Linked DNA regions of Homo sapiens. The protein of the gene in region 5 purifies or fractionates together with the protein of the main gene of each other region. This does not show direct contact. Each region holds a gene or a part of one and is shown on either strand. Other genes may lie near its edges.

What was found.
Region 1: the proteins of THOP1 (region 5) and UNG fractionate together in Homo sapiens (co-fractionation; one large-scale study listed by BioGRID). This does not show direct contact.
Region 2: the proteins of THOP1 (region 5) and TTC39C fractionate together in Homo sapiens (co-fractionation; one large-scale study listed by BioGRID). This does not show direct contact.
Region 3: the proteins of THOP1 (region 5) and EXOSC7 purify together in Homo sapiens (affinity purification with mass spectrometry, with the first as the bait; one large-scale study listed by BioGRID). This does not show direct contact.
Region 4: the proteins of THOP1 (region 5) and PITRM1 fractionate together in Homo sapiens (co-fractionation; one large-scale study listed by BioGRID). This does not show direct contact.
Region 6: the proteins of THOP1 (region 5) and IDH1 fractionate together in Homo sapiens (co-fractionation; one large-scale study listed by BioGRID). This does not show direct contact.
Region 7: the proteins of THOP1 (region 5) and GIGYF2 purify together in Homo sapiens (affinity purification with mass spectrometry, with the first as the bait; one large-scale study listed by BioGRID). This does not show direct contact.

The regions. Positions count from the first base shown.
Region 1 is NC_000012.12:109,107,516-109,111,492, forward strand, and holds the end of UNG (uracil-DNA glycosylase), read left to right. Parts: intron 1-2,313; coding exon 2,314-2,454; 3' UTR 2,455-3,477; downstream 3,478-3,977. UniProt on the Homo sapiens protein: Uracil-DNA glycosylase that hydrolyzes the N-glycosidic bond between uracil and deoxyribose in single- and double-stranded DNA (ssDNA and dsDNA) to release a free uracil residue and form an abasic (apurinic/apyrimidinic; AP) site.
Region 2 is NC_000018.10:24,083,914-24,088,337, reverse strand, and holds part of TTC39C (tetratricopeptide repeat protein 39C), read right to left. Parts: intron 322-4,424; coding exon of another isoform or gene 316-321; exon of another isoform or gene 36-315; intron 1-35.
Region 3 is NC_000003.12:44,982,656-44,987,079, reverse strand, and holds part of EXOSC7 (exosome complex component RRP42), read right to left. Parts: intron 1-4,424. UniProt on the Homo sapiens protein: Non-catalytic component of the RNA exosome complex which has 3'->5' exoribonuclease activity and participates in a multitude of cellular RNA processing and degradation events.
Region 4 is NC_000010.11:3,165,904-3,170,327, forward strand, and holds part of PITRM1 (presequence protease, mitochondrial isoform 2 precursor), read right to left. Parts: intron 4,304-4,424; coding exon 4,201-4,303; intron 1,140-4,200; coding exon 1,033-1,139; intron 478-1,032; coding exon 326-477; intron 1-325. UniProt on the Homo sapiens protein: Metalloendopeptidase of the mitochondrial matrix that functions in peptide cleavage and degradation rather than in protein processing. Has an ATP-independent activity. Specifically cleaves peptides in the range of 5 to 65 residues.
Region 5 is NC_000019.10:2,809,063-2,813,388, reverse strand, and holds part of THOP1 (thimet oligopeptidase), read right to left. Parts: intron 3,086-4,326; coding exon 2,899-3,085; intron 2,750-2,898; coding exon 2,621-2,749; intron 1,792-2,620; coding exon 1,655-1,791; intron 275-1,654; coding exon 113-274; 3' UTR 1-112. UniProt on the Homo sapiens protein: Involved in the metabolism of neuropeptides under 20 amino acid residues long. Involved in cytoplasmic peptide degradation. Able to degrade the amyloid-beta precursor protein and generate amyloidogenic fragments.
Region 6 is NC_000002.12:208,248,011-208,252,434, forward strand, and holds part of IDH1 (isocitrate dehydrogenase [NADP] cytoplasmic), read right to left. Parts: intron 3,558-4,424; 5' UTR 3,542-3,557; coding exon 3,420-3,541; intron 651-3,419; coding exon 359-650; intron 1-358. UniProt on the Homo sapiens protein: Catalyzes the NADP(+)-dependent oxidative decarboxylation of isocitrate (D-threo-isocitrate) to 2-ketoglutarate (2-oxoglutarate), which is required by other enzymes such as the phytanoyl-CoA dioxygenase.
Region 7 is NC_000002.12:232,783,726-232,788,149, reverse strand, and holds part of GIGYF2 (GRB10-interacting GYF protein 2), read right to left. Parts: intron 1,001-4,424; coding exon 821-1,000; intron 1-820. UniProt on the Homo sapiens protein: Key component of the 4EHP-GYF2 complex, a multiprotein complex that acts as a repressor of translation initiation. In the 4EHP-GYF2 complex, acts as a factor that bridges EIF4E2 to ZFP36/TTP, linking translation repression with mRNA decay.

The DNA.
Region 1 (3,977 bases), on a different chromosome or scaffold from region 5:
CTCTTTTTTTTTTTTTTTTTTTTTTTTCTGAGACAGTTTCACTCTTGTTGCCCAGGCTGGAGTGCAATGGCGTGATCTCAGTTCACTGCAGCCTCCCCCTCCTGGGTTCAAGTGATTCTCCTGCCTCAGCCTCCTGAGTAGCTGGGATTACAGGCATGTACCACCACATCCAGCTAATTTTGTATTTTTAGTAGAGACGGAGTTTCTTCATGTTGGTCAGGCTGGTCTTGAACTCCTGACCTCAGGTGATCCACCTACCTCAGCCTCCCAAAGTGCTGGGATTACAGGTGTGAGCCACCACGCCCGGCCAACTATTCCATTTTTGTGGCGAGATTTTTTTGTTTTTGTTTTTGTTTTTTAATTCTTCCTTCTTAGGAGCTGTAAGACTATTCAGAGAGTTCAGAAAGGCACAAAATGGAAAGTAAATGGCTTCCACTCTTTCTCTTAAAGGAACTACTAAATACAGTGTCTTGGGTATTTTTCTAAAGTTTTTAAAAAATGAAATTATTTTGCATTTTGTTCACTTGGTAAATTTTGGAGGTCATCTCATCAGTATATTTATCTTTCGCATGTTTTTCTAGGAGTTATGTGGTTTTACATTGTAAGAACTTTAGAAAAATACATTTAGCCAGTTCTGTAACACTGAATTGTATACTAGGTTTTAGCTGACATAAGCAGTGTGTCAGTCCCTTTATATGTACCTATTTGTGTAGGTACAACTGGTCCCTGGCTTATGAAGTTTGACCTGATTTTTTTCGACTTTACAATGGTGTATAACCATACTTTGAGCACTCACACGTTGTTTTTTTTTCTTTCTTTAAGAGACAGGGTCTCTTGGCTGGGAGCAGTGGCTCACGCCTGTAATCCCAACACTTTGAGAGGCCAGGGTGGCGGATCACTTGAGCTCAGGGGTTTGAGAACAGCCTGGGCAACATAGTGAGACCTTGTCTCTAAAAAACACAAAAAATTAGCCTGGTGTAGTGGCACGCACCTGTGGTCCCAGGTACTCAGGAGGCTGAGGTGGGAGAGTAACTTGAGCCTAGGAGGTGGAGGCTACAGTGGGCCACAGTCATGCCACTACACTCTAGCCTGGGTGACAGAGTAAGACCCCATCTCAAAAAATAAAAAATTAAAAAAAAAGATCTTGCTCTGTCACCCAGGCTGGAGTGCAGTGGCACAATTATAGCTTTTTGCAGCCTCGAACTCCTGGGCTCAAGTGATCCTGCCACCTCAGTCTTCTGTGTAGCTAGGACTGCAGGTGCATGCCATCACACTTGGCTAACTTTTTAATTTTTTTGTAGAGATGGGGTCTCGCTATGTTGCCTCAGTTGGTTGTAAACTCTTGGTCCCATGCAGTTGTCCTACCTTGGCCTCCCAAAGCACTGGGATTACAGGTGTAAGCCACCGTGACTGGCCCCGTTCTATTTTTCACTTTCAGTACAGTGTTCAATGAGTTACATGAGGTACTAAACACTTCATTGTAAAAGAAGCTTTGTTTTGCCCAGCTGTAGGCTAATGTAGGTGTTCTGAGCATGTTTAAGGTAGGGTAGGTTAAGCTATGATGTTCAGCAGGTTATATGTCATAAATATATCTTCAACTTAGGATATTTTCTACTTAGGATGGGTTTTCCAAGATGTTAACCCCATCCATTGTGTTAATAAGTTGAGGAGTTTATCTGTGTGTGTATGCATCATGGTGTCCTTTAGCAAATACAGTCTTAGCAGTGGAAATTGCTGGCAGTATGATAGGGACACTTGAAAATTGCATAGATAATTGCCAACTTGAAGGCAGAGGGTGGTGCTCTTTGCATCTCAGAGCCTAGCAAAGGTAGGTAGTTGCTCAACAAACGGACTAATGTTCTAATGCAAATGCTGAATGCTCCACTTTGGAAGGGGGAGAATTTAGAGGGCAAAGGGGAATCGCACAGGGTCTTAAAGTGCAACAGCCACAGTCCTTCCTTTTTGGGGAAAAAAAAAAAAAGTCCCGGCCGGGCATGGTGGTTCACGCCTGTAATCCCAGCACTTTGGGGAGGCCAAGGCGAGCGGATCACGAGGTCAAGAGATCGAGACCATCCTGGCCAATATGATGAAACCCCATCTCTACTAAAAATACAAAAATTAGCTGGGTGTGGTGGCACGCGCCTGTAGTCCCAGCTACTTGGGAAGCTGAGGCAGGAGAATCGCTTGAACCCGGGAGGCGGAGGTTGCAGTGAGTCGAGATCACGCCACTGCAGCAAGACTCTGTCTCAAAAAAAAAAAAAAAAAATTTAAAAAGTCCCAAATCTGCCACCATTTATTCTTGATCTTTTTCAGAAGCGGCACCATGTACTACAGACGGCTCATCCCTCCCCTTTGTCAGTGTATAGAGGGTTCTTTGGATGTAGACACTTTTCAAAGACCAATGAGCTGCTGCAGAAGTCTGGCAAGAAGCCCATTGACTGGAAGGAGCTGTGATCATCAGCTGAGGGGTGGCCTTTGAGAAGCTGCTGTTAACGTATTTGCCAGTTACGAAGTTCCACTGAAAATTTTCCTATTAATTCTTAAGTACTCTGCATAAGGGGGAAAAGCTTCCAGAAAGCAGCCATGAACCAGGCTGTCCAGGAATGGCAGCTGTATCCAACCACAAACAACAAAGGCTACCCTTTGACCAAATGTCTTTCTCTGCAACATGGCTTCGGCCTAAAATATGCAGAAGACAGATGAGGTCAAATACTCAGTTGGCTCTCTTTATCTCCCTTGCCTTTATGGTGAAACAGGGGAGATGTGCACCTTTCAGGCACAGCCCTAGTTTGGCGCCTGCTGCTCCTTGGTTTTGCCTGGTTAGACTTTCAGTGACAGATGTTGGGGTGTTTTTGCTTAGAAAGGTCCCCTTGTCTCAGCCTTGCAGGGCAGGCATGCCAGTCTCTGCCAGTTCCACTGCCCCCTTGATCTTTGAAGGAGTCCTCAGGCCCCTCGCAGCATAAGGATGTTTTGCAACTTTCCAGAATCTGGCCCAGAAATTAGGGCTCAATTTCCTGATTGTAGTAGAGGTTAAGATTGCTGTGAGCTTTATCAGATAAGAGACCGAGAGAAGTAAGCTGGGTCTTGTTATTCCTTGGGTGTTGGTGGAATAAGCAGTGGAATTTGAACAAGGAAGAGGAGAAAAGGGAATTTTGTCTTTATGGGGTGGGGTGATTTTCTCCTAGGGTTATGTCCAGTTGGGGTTTTTAAGGCAGCACAGACTGCCAAGTACTGTTTTTTTTAACCGACTGAAATCACTTTGGGATATTTTTTCCTGCAACACTGGAAAGTTTTAGTTTTTTAAGAAGTACTCATGCAGATATATATATATATATTTTTCCCAGTCCTTTTTTTAAGAGACGGTCTTTATTGGGTCTGCACCTCCATCCTTGATCTTGTTAGCAATGCTGTTTTTGCTGTTAGTCGGGTTAGAGTTGGCTCTACGCGAGGTTTGTTAATAAAAGTTTGTTAAAAGTTTGTTTTGTGCAAGTGTCCTTTGTGCGTCCAGGCCAGGGCATCCATGGACGTCCTTGGGCTGCCCTTTCCCTTGGCGCCTCCCAGGGTTCCCATAGCAACCACCGTCTGCAGGAGGGGCCGCCCTTGCCCCTCCTCCCCGCCCTGCCGCTCAGTGGAACGGCCCAACCCTCCCCTGGCTGCGGTGAGCGCTGGGCCCAACCCCCGGCCTGGAGCAGCGCCCCAACTCCGAGCACCGTGGAGCACCGGCTGCCAGCTGAGACCCCAGAGGGGTAACTAACGGCCTGAGGAAGGCATTTCTTCGGGGAACATGGCGTGCCCGTCGTGGCTACGTTCTGCCAAGCCCTGTGACGTTGGAGGGGAGCCGCCTGCATCCCCCGCTCAGCCAGTGTTTCTAGACTCCGAGACATCTGGAACTCGGAAGTGAGGCCAGGGCTCCAGGAAGACTCCCTGATGACGCACTGGCCCGCAGCCCAGGCTCAGGTAGTGGGGGCTGTCAGGAT
Region 2 (4,424 bases), on a different chromosome or scaffold from region 5:
TATGTGTATGTGACAAATATACACCAATACAAATATAACAGATAAAGTTCATTTAATGTATTTACTTTTTTACTTCAATTAAATTTAATTCAGTTCTTTATAATCCCATCTTTGAAATAAAAATGTGACTCTCAAGAAATGAAACTGATTGTTTAGCCAGCATACTGGAATTTAAATAGCTGATTTGGTCCCCTTCTTAGGAGATCATCTTCTTATTTCAATTATCAAGACATTTTTACAACTTCTTCTTTGGAACTGACTTCAGAAACACATTTAGGTGCCACAAGAAAAGTAAATAGTCCTTGATAACCAACATCATTTCTGAAAAAAGAAATGACATACAGCAATAGATTTTTCTACCAGTAGCTTCATCTATTCATTCAGCCAACATACATTGAGGGCCAGTCCTGTGCTAGGCCCAGATTTCGATTTCCAAAAACCAAACCTAAGGCTTTAAAATGTCAGCATGCAGGATATTCACAACGTATGGGCTCAAGCTCAGGAGACTGTTTCAAAATAAAGGTCAGGAGCTTGAGACCAGCCTAGCCAACATGGTGAAACCCCATCTCTACTAATAATACAAAAATCAGCCAGGCATGGTGGTGCACACCTGTAATCCCAGCTACTCGGGAGGCTGAGACAGGAGAATCACTTGAACCCGGGAGGCGGAGGTTGCAGTGAGCCAAGATTGCACCACTGTACTCCAGCCTGGGTGACAGAGCAAGACTCTGTCTCAAAAAAAAACAAAAAAAAAACAGTTCTCAAAATGCTTGCATAGGAACTTTGTTAGAATATGTTCATTAACTTTATAGAAAACGACTTTCATTTATTTGAATATCTGAACACTTTTTTAGAGGTAAATAATATTAAAAATTAGTTACATTACTAGTCACACCATATAAGGTATGTGTGTGAAAGTATGTATTTACAGAAAACCAAATCCTTACATGTCACATACAAAGCAGATTGTTAAAGCTGAAAGAGAAAAAAGTTGTGTAAATCTGTATTGCTTAAAGAAGAAAGAGCAGAGACAACTGAAAACAGTTTATGAAAATATAGACTTGTCCCTAATATTGTAAAAATAATCAAGAAAAATACTCATTAATTGCTTGTATCTTAATGGACATAACACTACCATAGGTCTAACTGAATGAAAATTAAGTGAACATTAATGGAAAATACAGAAATTCAAAATTATAACTACCAATTCACATTTGAAAATTGAGATTCCTATATAACCCATTGGTCAGCCTCCCAAACATTGTTTGCATTGTGGAAATTCAGGGATAAGTAAACAGCTGTATAGTACATACATCTCCTATAGCTACACCCATAACCAATTTTGCCAATCACAGGCCTTGCTTTATTGACAGCTCTCAACACCAAACAAGTTCTTTTTCCCCAAAAGAAAAAAAAAAACAAAACACGAAAATGTGATACCTGACTTCCCATGCTTAAGCACTCAGTAGGAATAATAAACACCATCACACCCTTACTTAGACAGCGTTTGCCACATGCTAGGTACTGTATTCACACATTCATTCCCCCCAGCAATGTAGTAAGTCACATGGGAGGAGTCAAGGAAAATAGGATCAGCTGTAAGGACAACACAAGTGGGCAGAGAAGGTTCGAGGCACAGTACTATAGACACGCAGTGGGGAGAAGCGGAGGCAGCGAGACAAGGGAATTCTTTCTGCAGTTTGGCAAAGAGGATCCTGTGCTCACCAGCTGGGGTGCAAACGGACCTCACCATCATGGTGTAGCACTCACTGCAACATCAACTGAGGCCATAACAGAAAACAGCCAAGTCACCACAATGAGGTTTATGCAAGTGGCACGACAGGAGCAGATCTGTGGAAGAAATCCTCCTATATTCACTCTACAGAGTCCCAAACAACGAAAGGCAAAGTACGTAAAAAGTTAACAAAACTAAAAGAAAAAGTGGGCACTCAACAGGATTTGAAAATAACGAGTACAGAAGAATGAACACTGACGGGCACAGATTGAGACAGTCACCCTGCATGTTAGCAAGCTTACACAAAAGCAGCTGTTCAAATAATTTCACAGATTCTGAGTCACTGAAGAAACAAAGATGGTGTCATATAATGCACCTGCCCTAAATTAAAGCCCCTAGACCATGTTCTGTGAGTACGTGTTGATAAAAAGAGCTCAAGGGGCCCTATTTCTAACCTAAATGTTCACTGAAAAGAAAAAAAATTCTTTGTAAGCAAATTCATTGGAAGGAGTCATGTAAGTTTCATAAACTGAGTCAGGGCCTTCAAGGCCTTACAAACAGCCTTTGGCAAGGGCTATATCACAGCCTCCCTGGGCAGAGTTCCTCATCTGCAAATGAAGGATGACATGGTCATTTCTGATACCGTCCTACACATACCTGGGAAGAGCAATGAAACGCTGCTGTCTGGGCACCTTGGGGATAATAACAACCATATTTCAAGTTAGCCTTAAAATCTTTTCATCCTCTGGGCCTTTGGGAAGAGCCAAACAGAAACACTCATCATATTTTGTCTGGCCCTAAAGCTACAGCTCACTAAATAACCGTAGTCACAGATCTTGTGTGTTTTTTCTTAAAACTTAACTGTGTTAAGTGCCGCTTAACTGTGAAGGAGTTCTAGCACCTACCCTCTGCACTCTGATCACAATTATCTACCCCCAAATAGACTACATATCTACTAAGAGCTATAATGTGGACTATGTACCTCCAAAAACCATATTTACAGGAATCCTTTGATGAAGCTGTGGCTTCCTTATTTCTAGAACCATCTTGACAACAAGGAATGACTGCTTATGTTTAGTATTCACTCAATCCTCTATAGGAATTAGTCGTGGCACAAACTAAAACCATGTCAAAGTAAGATTTTTGGGAAAAAAACTTATTAGCTTAACCAAAAGTTAAGCAATTTTGTTTTAAAATGAAAAATTACTCAAATGGCAAGTATAACAAAATATAAATTCTGATTTTCACATTTCTGTTTAACAACTTCAAAACCCAATTTAGAGCATTCATTCATCAGCAGAATAAAGAGAGAGAATTCTAACAAATGTCCAAAGCTAAGGGGCCTCACTGCCCTGCTGCACACAATTTTAAACTTTAGGCTTCTAGATGGATCGCTGAAGAGATGACCGAGGTAAATCTCTCAATTCTACACTTTATTCGTCAATGCACCAATTAGAAACAGTAACCTGTCACCATGAATTTACTTTCCCCTTGTAATAAATATCTGTTAAACACTAAACCCAGCAAATCTCTGTTAAACACTAAACCCTGTAGCATCGTGTTCAAAGCTACTCAGAACTTGAAGAAATCTAAATCTGCCCTTGAAGAAATCTAAATCTAAGAAAGCACTCATCCTGAGGCCAGGCACAGTGGCTCACACCTGTAATCTCAGCACTTTGGGAGGCCGAGGCTGGAGGATCTCTTGAGCCCAGGAGTTTGAGACCAGACTGGCCAAAATAGGGAGACCCCATCTCTAAAAATAAAAATTCAAAAATTAGCCAGGCATGGTGTCGCACAGCAGTAGTCCCAGCTACTTTGGAGGCTGAGGTCGGAGGATCGCTTGAGCCTGGAAGGTTGAGGCTGAGGCTGCAGTGAGCTATGACTGTGTCACTGCATGCCAGCCTGGGCAACAGGGTGAGACCCGTCTCAAAAAGGAAAAGAAAAAAAACAGTGAGAGAAAAAAGGGAGAAACACAACCAAGGGCTCACGAGCCTGTATGCAAAGAAAAACAATTGCAAGATAATGAGAACAAAAACAATTTGGACACAGGTTTAAATAATTCAGATCTTGGTGGGCTTTCTGAACTATATCTCAATTTTATTTTATATATTTATTTTTGAGATGGAGTCTCACTCTGTCACCCAGGCTGGAGTGCAGTGGCGCAATCTCGGCTCACTACAACCTCTGCCTCCCAGGTTCAAGCGATTCTCGTGTCTCAGCCTCCCAAGTAGCTGGGATTACAGGCACGTACCACCATGCCCAGCTAGTTTATTGTATTTTTCGTGGAAACAGGGTTTCACCATGTTGGCCAGGCTGGTCTCGAACTCCTGACCTCAGGTGATACACCTGCCTCAGCCTCCCAAAGTGCTGGGACTGCAGGCATGAGCCACCATGCCCAGCTTATATCTCAATTTTCAACTGCTAGTATAATCTCTAAAACACATCTTCCATATACAAAGCACTTAGAAAACTGCTCTGCATGGTCTTCAGATTTAAGGAGTCACTTTATGAAGGAGAAAAATGACTGGGAAAGTAATATACACTCCACTGCCTGCATCCCCACCCCCAAAAAAACAAATTATTCCTGTGCCCATGAAAGCATTTCTAGGCAAAAATCTTCAAAAGGACTCATGGGGGCTGATTTCTCAGAGTGCCTGGTTAACTGGAGGACAGATGTTGTTAAAATCTC
Region 3 (4,424 bases), on a different chromosome or scaffold from region 5:
ATATATGCAGGAAATCATTCCACGTTGGCTCATGGAGCTCCTTCTCATTCTTTGTAAACATTTTTCAAAAGCAGTTTTTTTCAGAAAAAGAATCATTAGCTTAATCAGATTCTCCAAGGAGTTGATGCTTCCCAGAAACATAAAAAATAAAATAAAACACTGCTCTAAAGTATGTGACTGACAGTTTATCTTTAAACTGCCTGGCTAACTGCATATGTGACTGACTTTTTTGAGAAATTAAACAGAAAAAAGCAAAACACTGCAGCACCACACAGTACCAATGATCACCCTCTGCCATACTTGCTTCAGGTCTTTCACCCGTTTAACTTTTCAATGACAGAAAATAAACATCACAAATCAGGTGGAAGGTCCTGTGCAGCCCATCCTTCCCCCAGCACCTTTCCTCCCTGGAAGATATTGAGAGGTGACAGCGTGCTGGCAGCCCTCACAGCCCTCGCTTGCTCTCGGCACCTCCTCTGCCTGGGCTCCCACTTTGGCAGCACTTGAGGAGCCCTTCAGCCCGCCGCTGCACTGCGGGAGCCCCTTTCTGGGCTGGCCAAGGTGGGAGCCGGCTCCCTCAGCTTGCTGGGAGGTGTGGAGGGAGAGGCGTGGGTGGGAACCAGGGCTGCGGGCAGTGCTTGCGGGCCAGCGCGAGTTCTGGGTGGGCATGGGCTCAGCGGGTGGGTGTGGGCTAGGCGGGCCCCATACTCTGGAGCAGCCAGCTGGCCCCAGGCAGTGAGGGGCTTAGCACCTGGGCCAGCAGCTGCTGTGCTCAATTTCTTGCTGGGCCTTAGCTGCCTTCCCACGGGGCAGGGCTCCGGATCTGCAGCCTGCCATGCGGGAGCCTCCCCGCCCTCCCACCCCCACCCATGGGTGCTCCTGTGTGGCCCCAACCTCCCCAAGGAGCGCTGCCCCCTGCTCCACGGCGCCCAGTCCCATCGACCACCCAAGGGCTGAGGAATGCGGGTGCATGGCAGGGGACTGGCAGGCAGCTCCACCTGCGGCCCCAGTGCAGGATCCACTGGTTGAAGCCAGCCGGGCTCCTGAGTCTGATGGGGACTTGGAGAACCTCTATGTCTAGCTAAGAGATTGTAAATACACCAATCAGCACTCTGTATCTAGCTACTCTGGTGGGGACTTGGAGAACCTTTGTGTCTACACTCTGTATCTAGCTAATCTACTGGGGAGGTGGAGAACCTTTGTGTCTAGCTCAGGGATTGTAAACGCACCAATCAGCACCCTGTCTAACAGACCACTCGGCTCTCTGTAAAATGGACCAATCAGCAGAATGTGGGTGGGGCCAGATAAGAGAATAAAAGCAAGCTGCCAGAGCCAGCAGTGGCAACCCGCTTGGGTCCCCTTCCACACTGTGGAAGCTTTGTTCTTTCGCTCTTTGCAATAAATCTTGCTACTGCTCACTCTTTGGGTCCACACTGCCTTTATGAGCTGTAACACTCACCGCGAAGGTCTGCAGCTTCACTCCTGAAGCCAGCGAGACCACGAACCCACCTCGGGAGGAATGAACAACTCCAGGTGTGCCGCCTTAAGAGCTGTAACACTCACCATGAAGGTCTGCAGCTTCACTCCTGAGCCAGCGAGACCACGAACCCACCAGAAGGAAGAAACTCCGAGCACATCTGAACATCAGAAGGAACAACTCCGGACACGCCGCCTTTAAGAACTGTAACACTCACCGCGAGGGTCTGCAGCTTCATTCTTGAAATCAGTGAGACCAAGAACCCACCAATTCCAGACACAATATCCCTATCTTGAGTCTGGAGATGGATTCAAAAAGCAACAGAATTTCAAGTCTAAGAGAGTAAGCCTTTAGGATAGAACTCCAGAAGGTGATCCCTCTTCACTGGAAGACCCATAACTATGTAACTGTGTCTCTTCCCAACCTCACCCATAGAACCTGAAGGCTTTCTAGCTCAATCTCTAACACTCCAGCCCTCTCCACCTCCATGTGCCCCACTCCCCAGCTAGGAAAGTGAATACCCAGCCCAGAAAGGTTATTGACAAGAAGTTCTTTGTGGGGTGTAAATATGGTGTAAGTATGAACAATCATTAGGAACATGACTCATGGTTCCAGGCCAGCTCCTGGCACTAACTAGCCACTTGACTTAGGACAAGCCCCTTCCCTCTCTGGATTAGTTTCCTCATTTGTAAAAGATGGAGATTAAATTAGTCTCAAAGTGATTCTCTAATTCTACAGATCTATAAATTAAAATGGCTGTAATTATTTGCAATAAATAATAGCAGCTGCTATTTACTGTGCATTTACTATATACCAGATAATGTGCAAGGAATACTGCAGTTAATGCATTTAATCTTTTCAATAATCCTATACGATAGTGTTATTCATTCCATTTTACAAATGAGAAAACTGAGGTTAAAAGATGTCAAATGAATGGCCCAAGTTCAGACAGCCAGTAAGTAGCACTTAAGCCTCAAGTCAGAGCTCTTAACCGCTATGCTACACAGTCCACTGCATTCTAAAGGATGTCTTCACTTTACAAAAGGACTCAGCAGAGACCTCCTTCACAGGATGAACTGGCTGGCCACAAGGTCACAGGGTTTACTACTGCTGCTTCTTCCTTTTTTTTTTTTTTTGAGACAGGATCTCACTCTGTCACCCAGGCTGTAGTGCAGTGGTGATCACTGCAGCCTCAAACTCCTAGGCTCAAGCAATCCTTCTACCTCAGCCTCCTGAGTAGCTAGGACTACAGGCACATGTCAACATGCCCAGCTAATTTTTATTTTTTACTTTTTGTAGAGATGGGGTCTTGCTATGTTGCCCAAGTTGGTCTCAAACTCCTGGCCTCAAGTGACCCTCCTGCCTTAGCCTCCCAAAGTGCTGGGATTACAGGCATGCGCCACCACATCTGGTCCAACTACTGCTTCTAAAATATCACTTGCTCTGAAAGATTAGTCACACCTCTTTGTAGTGAAAATGTACTTGGTCCAGGAAGGGGCTGGTGGGCTGTCAGAAAACTGAGCCTCATCAGATACTGCTTTTCCAGCCTTTAATTCACTCTCTGCCTCCTGGAGAAAGGCTCAGGTGATAAGTAAAAGATAAATGAAAAGCTACAAATTTTCCTTTCCAAGCATGCATAATTTTTTTCCATATAAAAAAAGGATAGGAGGAAAACAAACCAAAAAAACCAACCTAACCAGTCCATGAATCACTGTACCCAGGGCAACTTTTTTTTTTAAACCCAGTTTTCCTTATAAAAGGCTTAGGAAATTGTCCAAACCTGCCTGGCCTAGCTCAGGGCCTGGTGCCCTACCACAGTTTTTATTTATCTGCAGCAGTCACGAGCAAAGGAATTAATCCATGTGTGAACACTTAAATAGGAGTTACCCTGAAGTAAAAGCTCCATTTTAAAACTCAAGAGATGTCAACAGCATGGAGTGGTGTCCCCTCCTTCTCAGCAGAGGAGACTGATGTGCCTCTAGATCAAGGGCTTCTGGATGCCAGGAAAGCTCTTGGTGACTTTCACAGCTGTTACCCATGTGATCACAACAACCCTACCAGTAGGGTGTGGTGTGGTGGAAACAGCCACCTTCCAAATTATACTTAAATCTCTGTTGTCACATGCCAGTTTTGTGACCTTGACCTAAATAGCTCTAAGCCTGTTTCTTCATCTAGAAAGCAGGGATAACCCCGACCTTACAGAGTTACAAGAGAACAGAAACGTCATAAAGCATTTAAAGGAGTCCTTCAGTGTAACACATAGGAGTCCCCCCAAAGCAGTTCCCTTCCCCTGCTTCTGGGGGCATGCATTAACTCACTGCATCCTCAAAAACAACCCTGAGAGAGGTTACAGATAAGAATGGAGGCACCTAAGTTTCAATCTCCTGTTTGTGACAGAGTGGAAGGACATTTAAGCACAGACCTACTTTCCCTCACACCCAGGAAGCCCAGTCCTATTACTTCTTAATAGAAACTGACAAGTTGGCGCTACCAATCTGACACATCTGGAAGGACTTTAGACTCAAAGTGGTCCTCTGAGGTTATGTTAACCCCTCATTAACTTGCTTTGACTTGTCTAATACTCCAGATTCCTAAAGGAGAAGTGAGACTAAATTCCTTCCCCTACTAGAAGGTGACTGCCCCCCGCCCTTAGGAAAGGGGCCACATTTGGTCCAGCTTTGCAGGCTCGGGCCCATCACACAGCAGGCAAAAGTAGGTGTTGATCCTTGTTTGACTTTCCAACCCTGTTGAGTAGCCAGGCATTCCTCTGAAAGGATATGGCTCCATAACTCTGCATCCTGCAGTGTCTGGGCATAAGGCTTTCTGTGCCATGGGTCTGTAAACAGAAAGGGCAGAGAGCTAAAAATCAAGAGTCCTGAGGGCTGGCTCCAATTCTGTCATGGCCAGACTGAGCAACCGAATACTGACTGCTCAATCTCATAGTTGA
Region 4 (4,424 bases), on a different chromosome or scaffold from region 5:
CCACTATCGTCAGTCTTACTAAAAGTCAAACATCAACATTAGTAGTAACTCTGGCATTGTAGCGATATCTCCAAGAGAAAATTGTTTTGAACTTTTCTGGGAAAAGTTCACATATGTTTTCTTAAAACGCTAGTTTTTACAATCTCGCTACCATGTGGCTTTCCTGAAGGATTAAATTTCTAATGTCCTTCAACTAGAGAGAGGTAAAAATTTTTCTAGAACATGAATTGCCCACTCCCCTCATTCCTTCTCAGAAACTAACTGAATTCCAGTGGGTGTGCCTGGCAAACCCAAAAGCAGTTTCTGTTCAGGATGCTGGTCTTACCTGTGAAGGCGTTCATGAACGTGGAGAGGGACCGGTTCAACATTTTGAAGAAAGGGTCTCTGCACGGATATTTCTGAGACCCACAAAGGACGGTATGCTCAAGAATGTGAGGAACACCAGTACTGTCCATGGGAGTAGTACGGAACTGCACGCTAGGGAAGGAGAATGACCAGAACGCAAAAGGTTCAGCTTAGTGCTGCGGACACAGTTCCCAGATGCATCATCACCTCAGGCTACTAGAAATCATCATTCTGACACCACAATCCTCCAGCACAGGGTTTTCCAACTATAATGTAAATCATTGACTCAGACTGTAAAATTGTATTTTGATGAGATTATAAGTCAGTGTAAACTTTTCCTTATTTTTCAAGATGCTCTGTCAATAAAAATACTAGTGAGATGATATTTTAAACCACGTAATGTATAGCCATGTTTTAAATCAAGCTTGTCCAACCCGCAGCCTGCAGCCCGCATGCTCAGGATGGCTTGAAATGCAGCCCAACACAAATTCATACACTTTCTTAAAACATTGAGGGGTCCTTTATTTATTATTTTTAGCTCATCAGCTGTCCTTAGTGTTAGTGTATTTTATGCGTGGCCTAAGACAGTTGTTCTTCTTCCATTGTGGCACAGGGAAGCCAAAAGAATGGACATTCCTGATTTAAATAAAAACATTCAAGACCATGTTCTTACAATGCACCACACACCTGAACAGATTATTCGTGTCTTCTCTGGCCAGGTGTAAATACCTGGCTCCTGTGTCATCATGGGTGAGCTTCACTGCAGTCAGGAACAGCTCGGGAACAGATGTCACCTGAGTTAACAAGAAAAACACGACCAGTTAAACTTAGACAAAATGGCCTTTGAAATGGTTATGTTCGACACACTGAGAAAACTGGCTTTTCTGCCTGAAATTAGATGATGCCGGGAAGGCAGTATTTCAGAGCTGGAGAGAAGAGAACCATCTTGTCCAGGTCCCTTATCCTACAAACAAGGAAAGACAGACCTAAAAAAGGCAGATGAGAATATGTGTGTGTGTGTATAGAAAGAGAGAGAGAGCGAGCGAGCGAGCGAGCGCGAGAGCGCACGCGCTTACTACTGGCTAGGTATTTTAGATTTTTTTATTTTTTAAATTTTTTATTCTTTTTTTGGCTAGGCATTTTCTAATCATGTCACATATAATCCTGTGAGGGAGGTATTCTCATACTCATTTACAGACGAAAAAACCGAGGCTCAGGGTGATGAAATAAGCTGCCTAAATCACAGAGCCAGGATTCACCCTGGTGTCTGCCCTTCCCATGGTACCATGCTGCACCTAAGTAACAGAGCGCCCTTTCCAATGTCTGCTGAGTGTCTCCTGCTTTTGTGTGCTGTGCCTCAGTAACACAGCGCCCCTTCCAATGTCTGCTGAGTGTCTCCTGCTTTTGTGTGCTGCGCCTCAGTAACACAGCACCCCTTCCAACGTTGGCTGTGTGTCTGTTTCTGTGCATATCATCTCCTGTAGTGCGCAGAACGGGCCTGCAAGGAGGGGAAATGCTAGAGTGGGCTAGCCTGCGACAGCAGGGAGAGGCTCTAGGATCAGCCTTTGCTTCTCTTAGTTTAGGATGGGTTCTCGGTGGTAGCTAGAAGCACAAAGCTGTGGCTTCCAGAACAGCTGGAGGGGCCGGGAGGATAGAAATGCCCACAAGACAGACGAAAGACTCCCCACTCCTGGGGCGGCGTGGAAGGTCATCTCCTACTTTAGGTAAGCCTCCTGGTAAGTGACCATACTCCTCGGTATGAAAGAAACTGTCTTCTCTTCCAGTCATGCCAGCCGGCCCTCTCCCTCAATCACACACCACGTCCCTGTGATCACCACACCACTCACCACCCCCTCCTGCCAGGTGCCATGAGTCACCTGGCCAAGCGCACACAGTAAGTCGCTGGCCAAGGTCAGACCTCGGGTCTCCTCAGCCCAATCTAGGGAGCCTGCCACGCAACAGTCATGCATAAAGCAGACCACTATGACCTGCATCATCTACCGCCGCGAAATTACTTCTGTTTCCAAGCTCACTGTACTTTGTAACAGATGATCAATGCTTTTGAAGTCAGCAGATACAGTGAGATGTTTGCTTTCTAATAATATATAGCTTTAATAATAATAGCTTTCATGGTAGCTATTTCTCAAACAAGAATCATGACTTATCGTAAGTTTCTATGGCTGGACACAGTGGCTCACACCTATAATCCCAGCACTTTGGAAGGCCAAGGTGATATGGTTTGGCTGTGTCCCCACCCAAATCTCATCTTGAATTGTAGTTTCCATAATCCCCACATGTTGTGGGAGGGACCTGGTGGGAGGTAATTGAATCAAGAGGGCGGTTTCCTCCATGTTATTCTCGTGACAGTGAGCACGTTCTCATGAGAGCTGACGGTTTTATAAGGGGCTTCCCCCTTCACTTGATCCTCATTCTCTCCCCTGCCGCCCTGTGAAGAGATGCCTTCCACCACGATTGTGTTTCCTGAGGCCTCCCCAGCCATGCAGAACTGTGAGTCAATTAAACCTCTTCACTTTTTAGCTCATACTTTATAAATTACCCAGTCTTGGGTATTTCTTCATAGCAGTGTGAGACTAGACTAATACACAAGCAAAAGGATTGCTTGAACCCAGGAGTTTGAGACCAGTCTAGGCAACAAAGTTTCCATCTACACACACACACACACACACACACACACACACACACACACACACACACACAATTAGCCAGGCGTGGTGGCACCTTGTCCCAGCTACTTGGCAAGAGGATCGCTTGAGCCCAGGAGTTCGAGGCTGCAGTGAGCCAAGATCATACCACCACACTCCAGCCTGGGCGACAGGGTGAGTCCCAGTCTCAAAAGTAAATACGTTTCTATAAAATTTGAGAAATAAAGGAGGAGAATCTACCGCTGTGGGTGAGGCCCTTATTAACAGTAACCTGTACCATAAACCCAAGTGTCTTTGCCTGGCCTTTGCAGGATTTCACAAACGCTCCAAGTCTTTTCATGAGTCCCATGCCTGGACCTTGTCTGGCGCACCCTAGTCACTGCCCTGGCTCCCTTGCTGGAGCCCTGACCGAAGGCAGCCACGTTCTCACACCACCCTCTCCAGGAGCTCTTCCCTCTGCCCCCAGCAGCAGCAGCTCCCACTCCTCCTCCTGCCCTTGTCCTTGGCCCTCCGCGTGGCGTCCACCATGTGCCTCCGGTCACAGCCGCAGCAGTCTTTCTAGACAGTAAGCTGTTTGTCTTTCACGTTTGCTATAACATCAAGCATAGCACAAAGCCAACAGCTGGCCAAATACATGAAGCGTGTCATTTTCAGTTACCATGCTAAATAGAAACAATGCAAAAGGTTTAGGCAAAATAACAAAACAAAAACCAAATGAATCTATTTTAATACAGACCCAAGTAAGTACAGGTCCACAATTGCTTCTTTATCATTCTGAAACCCGAATGGCTCAGAAAACTGAAAGGTTCTGCGGACGTTTAGAGCAAGCTATTTGATGGCAAAACCTGACTAAACAGATCAGGGCAGTGAGTCTTCATGCTCATGCTCAGTGAAACATCAGGTTTGGCTGCAGAAACGCTAGTGTGTCTGATTACAGAGACCCAGCTGGAAGTGTTACTCTCTAAAATCTCACAAGAACCAGGCTTTGCGGGATTCCAGGAAGGGACTGGGGCTCATTTCACTCACAAGCTCTGTTCAGCCGAGTAGCTGCCACACAGCAGGAGCTGGGCCAGGGCCTTGGGACACAAGGACAAAAACGCTAGTCTCCGCCCTGAAGGGCTCCGTACATAGGCCAGAAGCCGCACCTGCAATGTATGTGGATTTATAAGGAGGTGCCGAGGACGACCCATACCTGGTTTACGGTGAATCCATGGATCTTGTCTCCTAGTTTATACTGCAGAGCCCTCTCACAAGCCCGGTTACTGTTCCATCGCCACGCTCTGTGGTGTGCATGTCTAGATTAAAAGTCATCTAAGTTAGATGAGTTGCAGGAAAAGTATCTGGCTAACATTATTCAGCCACATAGTGAAAATACTCTCATGTAATAAAGATTATTAAAGAAAAATTAAATATTGC
Region 5 (4,326 bases):
CCACCCTGCCAGTCCCAGGCACTGTGCCAGAGCCTGCCCCATCCTGTGCCGGGGGCTAAGGCACCAGGGCGGCGGGAGCGCAGGCCAGACTGGGCAGTCGCAGTGCCAGGCCTCAGCAGACCTGCGGCTCGGGCTCGCAGCCCCCGACCTGCAGCCCCTTGCTCAGGAGGAAGGCGTCCTGCTTGGGGTCACGGCCCAGGAAGCGCCTCAGCATGGCGCTGGCATCCTCGGAACCGCCGGGTCTCAGGATGCAGCTTCTGTAATCCATGCCAACCTGCCGAGGAGACAGGGCACTGTGGCCGGGTGGGGACCCAGGGAGGAAGGCAGAGGACCCCAGGAGTCTGCACACCCTCGCCCAGGGGGGCCTCGGAGCAACCCCTTCCAGGTTCCCAGGGAGGCCCGGGGGCCGCCTGCATCAGCACAGGTGGGAGAGCGCAGGTGCCTTTCATCAGAATCTCAGAGCGGGGGTGTGCACTGAGGGGCCAGCAGAGCCCCGAACTCCCCAAACTCCCGAGGTGGCTCCCGCCATCAGCCCCCACTGAAATCCCAGGCTGAGCCCATGAACAGAAGTGGCTGAGCCTCCGGCTGGACAATGTGGAAGCCGCTCGCGCTCTGGGCCGCCCTAAAGGCCCAGGTTTGAGCCCAGCCCTGTGACTGCGGGACTACGGGCAGGTGAGGCAGATGAGACTGCGAGGCGCCGGTGCCAGCCACCAAGGAGACCCCGACGCCCCAGAGCCCCGCAGGAGCCTGCGCGGACTGCAGGCTGCAGAGCCAGGGAGCCACAGTCCCAGCTCCCACCCGGGGGACTCCACCTCTACAGCCCCCGGCCGGTCCTCAGAGGTGGGACCCCCTCACCTCAGCAGCAGGGGGAGCTGCTGGAGGCTGCCTCAGGAGGGGGGAGGTCCCTGCTGGGCTGTGAAGACAGGGGGCTTGTCGGACCATTGCTCCCCCAGGTCCTGGCCTCTGCACCTCTATAAAGGGAGCAGCTGAGTGCCTGCTTGGTGGCTCCGAGGTACCTGCAGGCTGCCCAGTGCAATGTTGCACCCAGGCAGGGCAGGGCCGGCCCTCAAAGCTGGTAGCCACCTGTTCCTTGTGAGGGACTCTGGCGGCTGTCCCGAGCCTGGGTCACACCAAGTCAGCGGGAGGCACAGGCTCACATGGCGTAACGGCCGCACTTCATAGTGAGGAAACTGGAGGTTGGAGGAGCAAATGAATGGCAAACGCCAAGCCTTCTCCAGAGAAGGGTCTGTCTCAGCCCATGGCTCTGAGGCCGATCACGCAGATCCCGGAAGGACTCGTATGGGAAGACACGGAGCTCCCAGCACTCACAGCCCGAGGCCTGAGGGGCCAGTGTGGAGCTTCCTGCAGGGCCCAGGGAGGAGCTGTGGGCAGCACCGCACCAAGACCAGCAGGTGCCTCGGCCGGGATGGCTCACCCGGCACACCCAGGCCCAGGCCAAAGGTGTGCTTTTCTCGGCCCCACCCTGCTGTTGAGGACGCCCTCCCTGTCCCCAGTCCCCGCGTACCTTGCCGTTCAGGACGCCCTCCCTGTCCCCAGTCCCCGCGTACCTTGCCATTCAGGACGCCCTCCCTGTCCCCAGTCCCCGCGTACCTTGCCGTTCAGGACGCCCTCCCTGTCCCCAGTCCCCGCGTACCTTGCTGTTCAGGACACCCTCCTGCTTGAAGCGCGTGTGGAACATGTCCATGGAATACACCTCGCTCCACAGGTACCCGTAGTACTGGGCGTCGTAGCCACCTGCCAGATGGCCGAAGGTTGCAGGCATGTTGGTTCCTGGGGCGGACACATGGCAGGGTTCACGCTGTAGCCCCCACCCCATGCTCCTCCTCCAGGAGAAGACAACCAGCCAGACTCCTGAGACCCCTGCCCGGAACAGGGAGAAGCTGGAGGATCACGGTGAGGGCCGAGACCAGCTGGATACTTCTAGAACCAGAGTCAGCCACAAAGCGAGGGCCACAAGTCTCCGCCCCCTCTCCTGGAAGGACAGGAGCTCATTTAACGGGGCTGTCAGCTGCCACAGAGCAAAGTCCCCATTTTGAGACTGCGTCAATAAAGCAAGGCACGCCCACGCAACATCACAGGCCACGCTGCTGAAAACGCTTTTGGAAAGATTTTTGAAGTCTATGGAGTGTTAAGCCAGCAAAACACCACCCATGTTAAAATCATGCTGTATTTCCAAATTCTGGATCCTCGCAAGCGTGTGTGAACACACATGCACACAGGACAACAGGTGAGCATGGAAACAGGGCCCACTTCTCATCATTAGGATCGGAAATTCCTAGGCCTTCCTGTACTTCTCCAGGCTTTTTACAAAGCATGTGTCATACATTTCAATCAGGAAAACGCCAGCTTCATTCAAAGCAGAGGCTCCAGGGAACACACTCCTCCTGGGGGCTGGGGCCGCACACCCGTCCCCGACCCTGGGCCTGCAGCTGCATCTCAGCTGGGGCTGTCCCCCGAGGAGCCTGGGACGCGCTCCGTGGCTCCCCAGCAGGGACTCCTGCACTTGCTAAGTGAAGCATGGGGACCAACTCCCTTCACCTTCCCAGGGAAGCAGCTGAGGCTCCAAATTCCAGGGTGTGCCCGGCTCAAGGGTGGCTACCTGGCGTGGCCGGGACCCCGAGGATCTCCTGGCAGAGCCGCGCATACTCCTCGGCGGGGTCTGCGTCCGTCTGCGTGTGCAGGGCCTGGTCCACCTTGGCGAGGACGATCTGGCGCAGGTTGAAGAGGCCTGGGCGGGAGGGAAGGAGAGAGCTGGCCTCTGCACCTGCCCCGGCCCACTCTGCCCAGAGCTCCGACCCCCACCCGGGGCACATGCCAGGCCCCAGCTGTGTGCCGCCCCCCGAGGTTAGCACCCTTCCCCGGACGGGGCGGGTGCACCTGTGTTGGCCTGCCGGGACTCAATGAGCTTCTCCAGGAGCTCCCGGGGCACGGCGCTGCCTGTGCGGTAGTGCCGCGACATCCGCAGCAGCGGCTCCTGCTCCCACACCCAGTTCTCCAGCATCTGCGACGGCGCCTCCACAAAGTCCCGCTCCACGTGGGTCCCGCTGAACATGGCGAACTCCGCCTGCAGGGATGGGGCAGAGCCTCAGAGTGCCCAGGTCCTGCCTAGCCCGTTCCCGCCGGCCTGGCCCGTGTCAGCTGCCACAGTGCAAACAGGGCGAGTGCACAGGTGATGCGCTGGGCCCGGCCCTCCCACCCCAAAACTGGAAAACGACCGGGACCCGGAGGCCCCTGGGCTGCTGCTGGCTGCCGGTGGCAGCAGGACACACCTGAAGATGCCGGCCACATGACCCCGTCCCTGGAGGCCACCCACGCTTCTCCTCTAGCCACAGAGCTGCTGCTCCCTGAAAGCTCCGCACCCCGAGGGGTTGGGACCTGGGGACGGCCAGGTCCGGGTGGGGACGCTGTGAGGCATGCTGCATCTCCCTGCTCGTGTGTGTGTGGAACCTTCCCTAAAAGCACAGCCCTTGACTGAGTCCCGCTGGAACCATGGCAGGCAGCCAACGGCGAGGGAACTCCTGGGTGATCCTCAAGGTCCTCTCTGCAACACCGAGGCTTTTCTGTTCCAAGGACCACGCAGCCACACTCCTTGTCCCGACGGAATGCACCAAGGGACTCGCCGTGCCAGGCGCCAGGGACACGCAGAAAGCAGCATGCAAAGCAGGCCTGCAGGCACGTGCGTGGGCACCTGTGTGAGCACCTGTGTGGATGTGCACACGCGTGTGCTGGCTACGAGTGCTGTGCAAACAGTGTGGCAGGGAAGCCAGGAAAGGTGGACACACGGTCGATCCTCATTCCTGGACTCCGTGTTTTCAAACTCGCCTACTAAGATCCACAAAAACCCCAGAGGCCAGCACTGCGGCGCCCCTGAGCAGACGGTCCTCAGAAGGGCCGCACTCTGTCTTCTCACTTCGGCTCATTTTATGAGCAAGCGTCCTTTTCTCAGTCTAGTGGGGGCACGGTGTTTGCATCTTTCTGCTCTTGGTGATTTTGTGTTTAAAAGGCCCCAAGCGTTGTGCAGAGCACTGTCTCGTCTCCTTCAGCACCAGGAGGCCATGATGTGCCTCATGGGGACACCCTGTGTGTGCAAGCTGTGCTCAGGTGTGGGTGACAGAGCCACCAGCCATGTGTTCAACGTGAACCCGTCAGCGCTGTACAGCAGTAAGGTGTCTTGAACCCAAAACACACACAGTAAGGTTCTGGAATGATCAGTTGGCGAACACGTGACCAGGGTCCCCTTGGAGGGACAGGTCTGCATGCACTTCTCAGGGTTCTCAGTGACTTCATAGGACAGAGCCTTTCTGA
Region 6 (4,424 bases), on a different chromosome or scaffold from region 5:
AAGGGGATCCTATTGTGCAGCCAGTGTTGAAAACCACAGATCTGGTTGAACCATATGAAATTACCAACATAAAAATGGCAATATCATATGGTATAACTGAATAAAAGGATAAAGGAAAAAAAACAGCATGTTTGAAAAAAAATGTGTTGAGATGGACGCCTATTTGTAAGTTTATTTGTATTTGCCTTTAGCTAAATGTGTGTAAATATACAGTTATACATATATGCATTTCTCAATTTCATACCTTGCTTAATGGGTGTAGATACCAAAAGATAAGAATAAAACACATACAAGTTGGAAATTTCTGGGCCATGAAAAAAAAAACATGCAAAATCACATTATTGCCAACATGACTTACTTGATCCCCATAAGCATGACGACCTATGATGATAGGTTTTACCCATCCACTCACAAGCCGGGGGATATTTTTGCAGATAATGGCTTCTCTGAAGACCGTGCCACCCAGAATATTTCGTATGGTGCCATTTGGTGATTTCCACATTTGTTTCAACTTGAACTCCTCAACCCTCTTCTCATCAGGAGTGATAGTGGCACATTTGACGCCAACATTATGCTTCTTTATAGCTTCTGCAGCATCCTTGGTGACTTGGTCGTTGGTGGCATCACGATTCTCTATGCCTAAATCATAGCTTGAAAGAGAAAAATTAGAAGCAAAGTTTTTCAGACAAATGGATAGTTATAACCTACAACTGCAGTGATGGCATATAGAGCTCATTATGCAGAAAGCGAAGGCTCTGAGTACACCAAAATCTGCCAAGTTTTAGCACTGGCACACCCTAAACACAGAAGATGGGTGCCAACTACAAAGAGAACTAAGAGAGGCTAGACTGCTGGGCTGCCCCTCCTCTTGTAATGGGAAGCTGTCTATCAGGAAAATGAATGGAAACCATCAAACTCTGCCCTTTGCCTCCTGTTTTTCACCAGATAGAGGCAATAATGGCCTGGTTTCTCTCCATATAATTAGTATAATAAGTGTAAGTCTAAGGACCACCTTTTTCCCTTAGTAAATATTGCTCTTTAAAAATAAAAGGGGGTGGGAGGGGTTAAAGGATTTTTTGTATTTTGACGTTGAAGTGGTGGGAGGTAAAGATGTGACAGTTGATGCCAAAAATGCGAATGACTACTTCATTAATGCCAGTTAGTCATAAAATGAGCCTTTCCCTTTTTTTTTTTTTTTTAGATGAGTCTCGTTTTGTTGCCCAGGCTGGAGTGCAGTGGCACGATCTTGGCTCACTCAACCTCTGCCTTCCTGGGTTCAAGTGATTCCCCCGCCTCAGCCTCCCCAGTAGCGGGGACTACAGGCATGCACCACCATGCCCAGCTAATTCCTTCTGTAATTCTTGAGCAAGTGTTTGCTCTGGAAACAAGCCTACAATTTATTGGGTAAGTAAAGGAATCCATCAATGGTTTTCTACATACCAGAGAGTAATAGCTTAATATACACCAACACAAAGATTGCAGGTCATTCAGAGCTGAAAGAATGTTAGTTGTCCAGGGAGCATAGAAAATGACTGCAAAGCTTTATTTGAAGCATGCAATAGTTTGTTAAAAAGCAAGAAAACAAAATAATGTTTTGTTTATTCTGTTCTCCAAGGATTTAAAAGGTTTTTCAGCTCTTAAAACCTGCCTCTAGATTTCTTTTTGGTTCCCTTATCTTCCTTTCTTAGATCTCCTACCCAACTCATGATGCAAACAAAGAGATAGTAATCTTGACATATTTCCAAATAAAAATAACTTCCAACTGCTTCGACTTTAGATAATTCATATAAATCTAACAAAGTCATGTCCTTTGTTATCTTCTTGCATAGGAAATGTTGATCCAATCCCAACTCCAACAGGAAGTATGATCAGTAGTTTTCAAGTTCCTAGGAACCATTTCTCATAAGGAGAATCTATCAGCAAATTATTAGATTTTTTGCTTGTCTTCTTAACATTTCTAAGAAGATAAGAAAGGAAGGAACAAATTGCCCAGACCACTGTCCAGCCTACATAAAACAAACTACCTGCTCCATTCTCCTGAAAAAGAACCAGTCAGTGATAATAATAGGAATTTTGGAAAAATTTAAAACTTGTTTGAGCCTCCAAAAATTATCTAGTCTGCAGCCACCAAATTTTTTCCTCCTAGTCATAGTGACTCCCCTTTAAAACTCCTCATGATTCCACACTAAAGAGGCTCAAAGCATCTTTAGTTGCAGCCATTATAAGGAAAAGAACCCTGCCAGTTCACCTACTGTCATGTAAAGTCCTGAAACAGGAGTTCCTAAGATGCTTTTTTTTTTTAACCTAGTTGGAAGATGTTTTTATGCCTAATTTCTTATGTTTGGTTGACTTCTGCAAGTATTTATATCTTATCATGATTTCAATATAGACATCAGCAGCTTAGGTTTAGAACAATTAAAAAGTATGTTTAATGACATTATGTGAATTAAATGTCTCCACTCAAACAGGTCCTTAGGACAAATTTTGATGACTAATTCTGGGCTGAGGCAAACACACTTAGAGTTGCCAATAGTTTGGCTGAAACGTGTTGCTCAATATTTTTCTATGCCAGTCTTCAGCCACTTTACCCTTTTAAAAATTCTATCTCTACCTAAAGGTACAAAGAACAGAAGCAAGTTTATGAAAAACACAGCGAAAAAAATGAGAGAATTACATAGACTTTTGCATCTGTCCCCAGGCACTTTACACACAGGGCAAAGGGACACAGGATTTAAGGGAATTTTGCTGGAAAGGAGGGGTTCAACTAAGAAACATCATGAATTCTTTCTGCACTACAATTGTATGAAAAGGGCAAAAGGTGAGGCATGAAAAGGAAACAGGTCCATTGACTAAGTAAAGTGATAGAAAATTGAGTTTGAAATGACAAAATTGTGTTAACTGCATTTAGTTTACTGTTTCTTACATCCTCTCTTATTTCCCTTTTCTCAATACATTGTACTATTCTTAGCCACTGTTTTATTACAAATAAAACCTTCACAGGAAACAGAAGGTTAGAAGAATCTGAAAATCATTCTTTCCCTTATAATTCTTGACTTTTAGATGATAAATCCAGTTTTTCTAGCAGTATGTTAAAATTAGAAGATTCATCTGAATATATTTAGGCTTAAAACAAACTTTATTCACAAAACACAGCTATATCTATATAAAAAAAGCTAACTTCACCTCAAAATAATTCAGATTATATTCTTTTTTTTTTTCCTGTTTCTCCTTCCCTTTTTTTTCCTTTTTTTTTTAAAGTGATGGGGTCTCACTCTGTTGCCCAGGCTGGACTTGAATTCCTGGTCTTGAGGGATCCTCCTGCCTCTGCCTCCTAAGTAGCTGGGACTTCACGTGTGCACCACCATGCCCAGCCAGATTATCCTTTCTGAGTTTGCTACACGGAGGGGTAACTCATTTACCTATGTAGATCCAATTCCACGTAGGGAAAAATGAGTTTCTCTTTAATCAATTCCCAAATGATTCGTGTCATTTCATCTCCTTGCATCTCTACCACAGAACCGCCACTGATTTTTTTGGACATTTTGACTTCAATAAACCTAAAAAGAAAAAAAAAATACATGCCTTGTCATTTATTTCATTATAAAGTGAAATATATAAACAACGTAGTGTTTATATAAACAACGTAGTGACTACTAAAAGAACAATTCATGCAATTCAATTTATGTGTAGTTGAATAAAAAGCTAGTAACAGCAATTCTATTTACCATTAGAATTGAGTATCTTCTCTGAACAAAGTATTGTGTTATGTTTCACACGCGGTTTCTGAGCTAGCCCTCATAACAATCCAAAAAAATGGCCATCATTTCCCCATTTTACTTTGTTAAAAAAAAAAGAGCTTTCCCAAGGCCACCTAGCTAGAGCGTGGCAGAGCCTGACCCTATAACGTGCCCTTCATAATGCAATCATTATTCTCAACTACTGGTTTGTCTTAAGAAATGAGATTATTTCCACAATCTCATGTTTATTGAACACTTCAGTCCAACTCATCATTTTACTGGGCTCTCAAGATGTCCAGAATGGTGAGTGCTAGCATTTCTCCTCCTTTAAGAGGCTGTTTTTGTTATTTAATAAAAATAACTAGCCATGAGGAGATTCAGCTGGTTCCTGTGACCCATATTCAGGGAAACTTTAAGTCTAAAAGCGAGACGAAGAATTCCTGGTGGAACTGTTTTCCTAGAGATAACACAGACATTGGAGATGTGGGGCTAAATACAACAAAGTGATTTCTCAATTAGAAGAATCTCTATACAGTAGGGCCACTGCCCAGGACCCAAGCATGTCCCTGTCATCTTCTTCTGGCTGTTCACAGGCAAGGGTAAGCTGCTAGTGAGTGGGATAGGACAAACTGTGCATTGTCCTAGGAAGACAGCACTTTAAGGATAGGGTGTGGGGGTAGCATATAC
Region 7 (4,424 bases), on a different chromosome or scaffold from region 5:
GGTAAGCCCCTCTGGCACATGGTTGATAAAATACTGTCATACACATGAAATTCATAGGGCATTCCACATATACTCTGTGTGCTTCAGTTTTGCATGACCCCACAATTGGAACTACAGTTGCATCTGATTATCATGAGGCATGGAATCAGCACTGTGGTACAGGATGAACTTTAACACAAAGCACTAGTGTCTTCAATTACTAGCATATCTAATGTCCAAGAAGAACAGTTTGAGCATTTTTAAGAGACAAACAGAAGAACTTTAAAAGCCACTAATCACTACTATTGTCTCTCCTTCTTCTAAAGTTAGAAGGACATAAGAATGAACTTGTGATTATGTTTCTGACCTAGGTTTAAAGCTTATTCTTCAAATAAGGTTAAATCACATTTTCAAAAGGGAAAAAATGAAAGAATAAACCCTTTCTTGTTAGGAAAAACACTCATTGTTGGGGAGGGAAGCACATATTTCAAGTGTGTAATTTTTACACATTTATAAATCTTAAAGAATGCTAAAAAAGATTCAGAGATTTAGAGGTAGACAAAACTGAATGAAACCCTCATTTCTGCAGTTGAGCGCAGGTGCTTCCCATTAAACTACACTATTTGCCCCAGAAAAATAGAAAAGTGATTTCAATCAACTGAATAGATGTAGGAAATTTTTATGTTGCAATTTTTTCTAGTAATAAAACTGTGACAGCATAAATAATATGAATCCACCCCCACATTTTTTAAGCCAGTTTATCTTTTTCATTTAATCCCTATTTCCATCAAACTTTCCCTTATTTCAGTCCCTGTGTGCCTTTACTCAACAGAATTCTTACCAGGACTGTGAGGTCGCCACCTCTCTCCATCCCTCCTTGATCCAGCTAGTCGCCAACCTCCATCTTCATCTTCTCCATTTTGTTCCTCTCTAAAGATGCGCCAATTTTCACTTTCTGAGCGTATAAATTCATGCTTTCTCCCTACTGATGTTGGTCCACCTTCCTCAAAATTTGGTCTCCCTATAAAGAAAATAATATGGTAAGTAAACATGAGCCTCTGCCAGTATAGGCTTTGAAAACAAACTTCACAGCTCAAATCAAGCTTTCCTGCAAATGGGTCCATTTCAATATTCAGAAAAAAATCACTAAAATAACAGTGGGTATATGTATATATTATTAGACACATTTCTTAAAGCCATGTTCAGAGACTGGGCAATTTTTTTAAACAAAAATATTATGTAAAATTTTTTTTGAAAAAGCGTACAATGAAAAGTCCATCTTCCTACACAAGACCCTCAGAGTCGTACTCCCCAGAAGGAACCATCACCAAGTTTCTTATAAAGTCTTTCCAAACACTGTCCATGGGTACACTTACACATGTATACATAGCTCCCTCATCCACACACACAAACGCCACCCTCAGGATGTTATAAATGTTGTTTTGTTTGCTGTTTTCACTAACAGTGTATCTTGCCAATCCTTCCTTACTAGCACATACTTTTTAAAGTTATAAGATATTTTTCATCATACAACATACTTTATATAACCAACACCTACTGGTGATTCTGCCTAAACATGATATCTGTACATTTCAGGCCGTCTTTCATTCCAAAACAGATTATAAACTGAAAAGCAGGCCGCGTGGTGGCTCACGCCTATAATCCCAGCACTTTGGGAGGCCGAGACAGGTGGATCACGAGGTCAGGAGTTGGGAGACCAGCCTGGCCAATGTGGTGAAACCTCATGTCTACTCAAAATACAAAAATTAGCTGGGTGTGGTGACAAGTGCCTGTAATCCCAGCTACTCAGGAGGCTGAGGCAGGAGAATGGCTTGAACCCAGGAGGCGGAGGTCGCGGTAAGCAGAGATCGCGACACTGTACTCCAGCCTGGGTGACAGAGCAAGACTCCGTCTCAAAAAAAAAAATTGAAAAGTAGTATAACCTCATTTACTCTAGCACCTAATACAATACAGGCATACCATAAATTGCTTTTGGACAGAATTTAAAGCTAAGCTATGTCTAACCTAATGTCTCAAAAGTTACATTAATGTCAAAAGAGAGCCTGGTATACCAAGTAAACTAAACTGGTATTTTAAAAGGACAAGATCATTCTAAATTGTGCAAACAAATTCTTCAGTCACCATTCCACATGTGCTAACATATATAACTCATAACATTTATAAAATCTCACATCAAAATAGTTGAAAATCCAGAATAACATACATTGATGTCCTCAGTTTATAACAATAAAAGTTCAAGTTCTCATAATGACAAACTCAATCCTTTTAATTAATCCATACTAAAAGTGAAAAAATAATTGAACAACAGCATATGAAAATGAAATTCTAATTTCTGGTCATTCTGTTATATTCCATCTTACATATATTGAGATTCAGCATCCTGCTTGTCCATATGGTTGTTAGTCTGCTACTAGGTATCATTCTACTGAAAGATAAAATATCTTGGGAGAATGGAAGACATGATCTGCTGCTTTCTTATTGTGGTGGACAGCCTCTAAGAGCTCACCAACAATCCCTGACTGCTGATCTCTGTGGAATCCTCTACCCCCAATTATAAGCTGGACTAACAGAATGCAGCTGAAGTGATGAGATGCCACTTAAAATATTAAAGAAGACTGTAGTTTCCATCTTGGACACTTTCTCTGAAGGACACTAGTTGCCATGTAGTGACACAGACCTCGTGGAGAAGCTTGCATGGCAAAGAACTGAGACTTACCACCAGAAACATGAGTGAGTCTGGAAGTGGATCAAACCCCAGTTGAGCTTTGAGAGACTGCAGCATGGGCTGACACCTTGAGTGCAGCCTTACAAGAACCCTGGGCCAGAACCACCCAGCTAGGCTAAGCTGCTTCTAGATTCCCAACCCACAGAAACTGAGATAATAAATGTTTGCTGTTTTGAACCACCAAGCAAGGGTTTTATTATCTATGACCTTGCTCTTACCTGCAGGACGTGTCTGGAATGTCAGAACTATATTCTGGCTTTCCTTGGTTTATTAGTCCATTTTGCATGGCTATAAAGGAATACCTGAGGCTGGGTAATTTATTAAAAAAAAAAAAAGAAGAAGAAGTTGTTTATTTGGCTCGTGGTTCTGCAGACTATACAAGCATGGCACCAGCATCTGTCTGGCTTCCAGTGAGACCTCAGGAAGCTGTTACTCATTGTGGAAGGTGAAGTGAGAGCAAGTATGTCACATGGTGAGAGAGGGAGCAAGAAAGATGACAGAGATCCCAGACTCTTGAACTCATTACAGTGGGGAGGGGATGAGGGATCCACCCTCATGACCCAAACACCTCCCACCAGGCCCCACCTCCAACACTGGCGATCACATTTCAACATGTGATCTGGAGGGGACAAACATCCAAACTATATCACTTGGTTTACCAGAGAAGTCATAATCTAAATCTATTGTAGTTATTATGTAATATCTGATATATCAAAAACCATATTGCAGCTTTTATAAATTATTTTGTGGCCAGGCGCGGTGGCTCACACCTGTAATCCCAGCACTTTGGGAGGCTAAGGCGGGCAGATCACGAGGTCAGATCAAGCTAACACGATGAAACCCCATCTCTACTAAAAATAGAAAAAATTAGCCGGGCGCGGTGGCGGGCGCCTGTAGTCCCAAGCTACTCAGGAGGCTGAGGCAGGAGAATGGCATGAACCTGGGAGGTGGAGCTTGCAGTGAGCCCAGATCACGCCACTGCTCTCCAGCCTGGGTGACAGAGCAAGACTCCGTCTCAAAAAAAAAAAAAAAAAAAAAGAAATTATTTCGTGTAAGTAGCTAGAACCTCAGGCACATGCCACCACACTCAGCTAAATTTAAAATTTCATTTTATTTAATTTTTGCAGAGATGGGGGTCTTGCTATGTTGTTTAGGTTGGTCTTGAACTTCTGGCCTCAAGTGATCCTTCTGCCTTGACCTCTTAGTAAATTATGTAGAAGGGCACTTCTGTATAATTTATTCAGTTTCTTCATCACTTATTTCCAACTGTTGCCCTAAACAGGCTTTTTAAAAATGTGATCATGTTATGAGAAAATCCTATCCATTTAATTTCAGGGATGCTGAATTTCAGGGAGCTAAATTTTTGATCCTTGTATGTAATTGTTACTGGTACGTAAGTAAATTTTATTGATACTACAAGTAAAAAACTAGATCTGAGGCTGGGCGTGGTGGCTCACGCCTGTAATCCCTGCACTTTGGGAGGCCGAGGCGGGCGGATCACCTGAGGTCAGAAGTTCGAGACCAGCCTAACCAACATGGAGAAACCCCGTCTCTACTAAAATACAAAAAAAATTAGCTGGGCATGGTGGCGCATGCCTGCAATCCCAGCTACTCGGGAGGCTGAGGCAGGAGAATCACTTGAAGCGGGTGGCAGAGGTTGCGGTGAGCCAAGATCGCACCATTGCACTCCAGCCTGGAC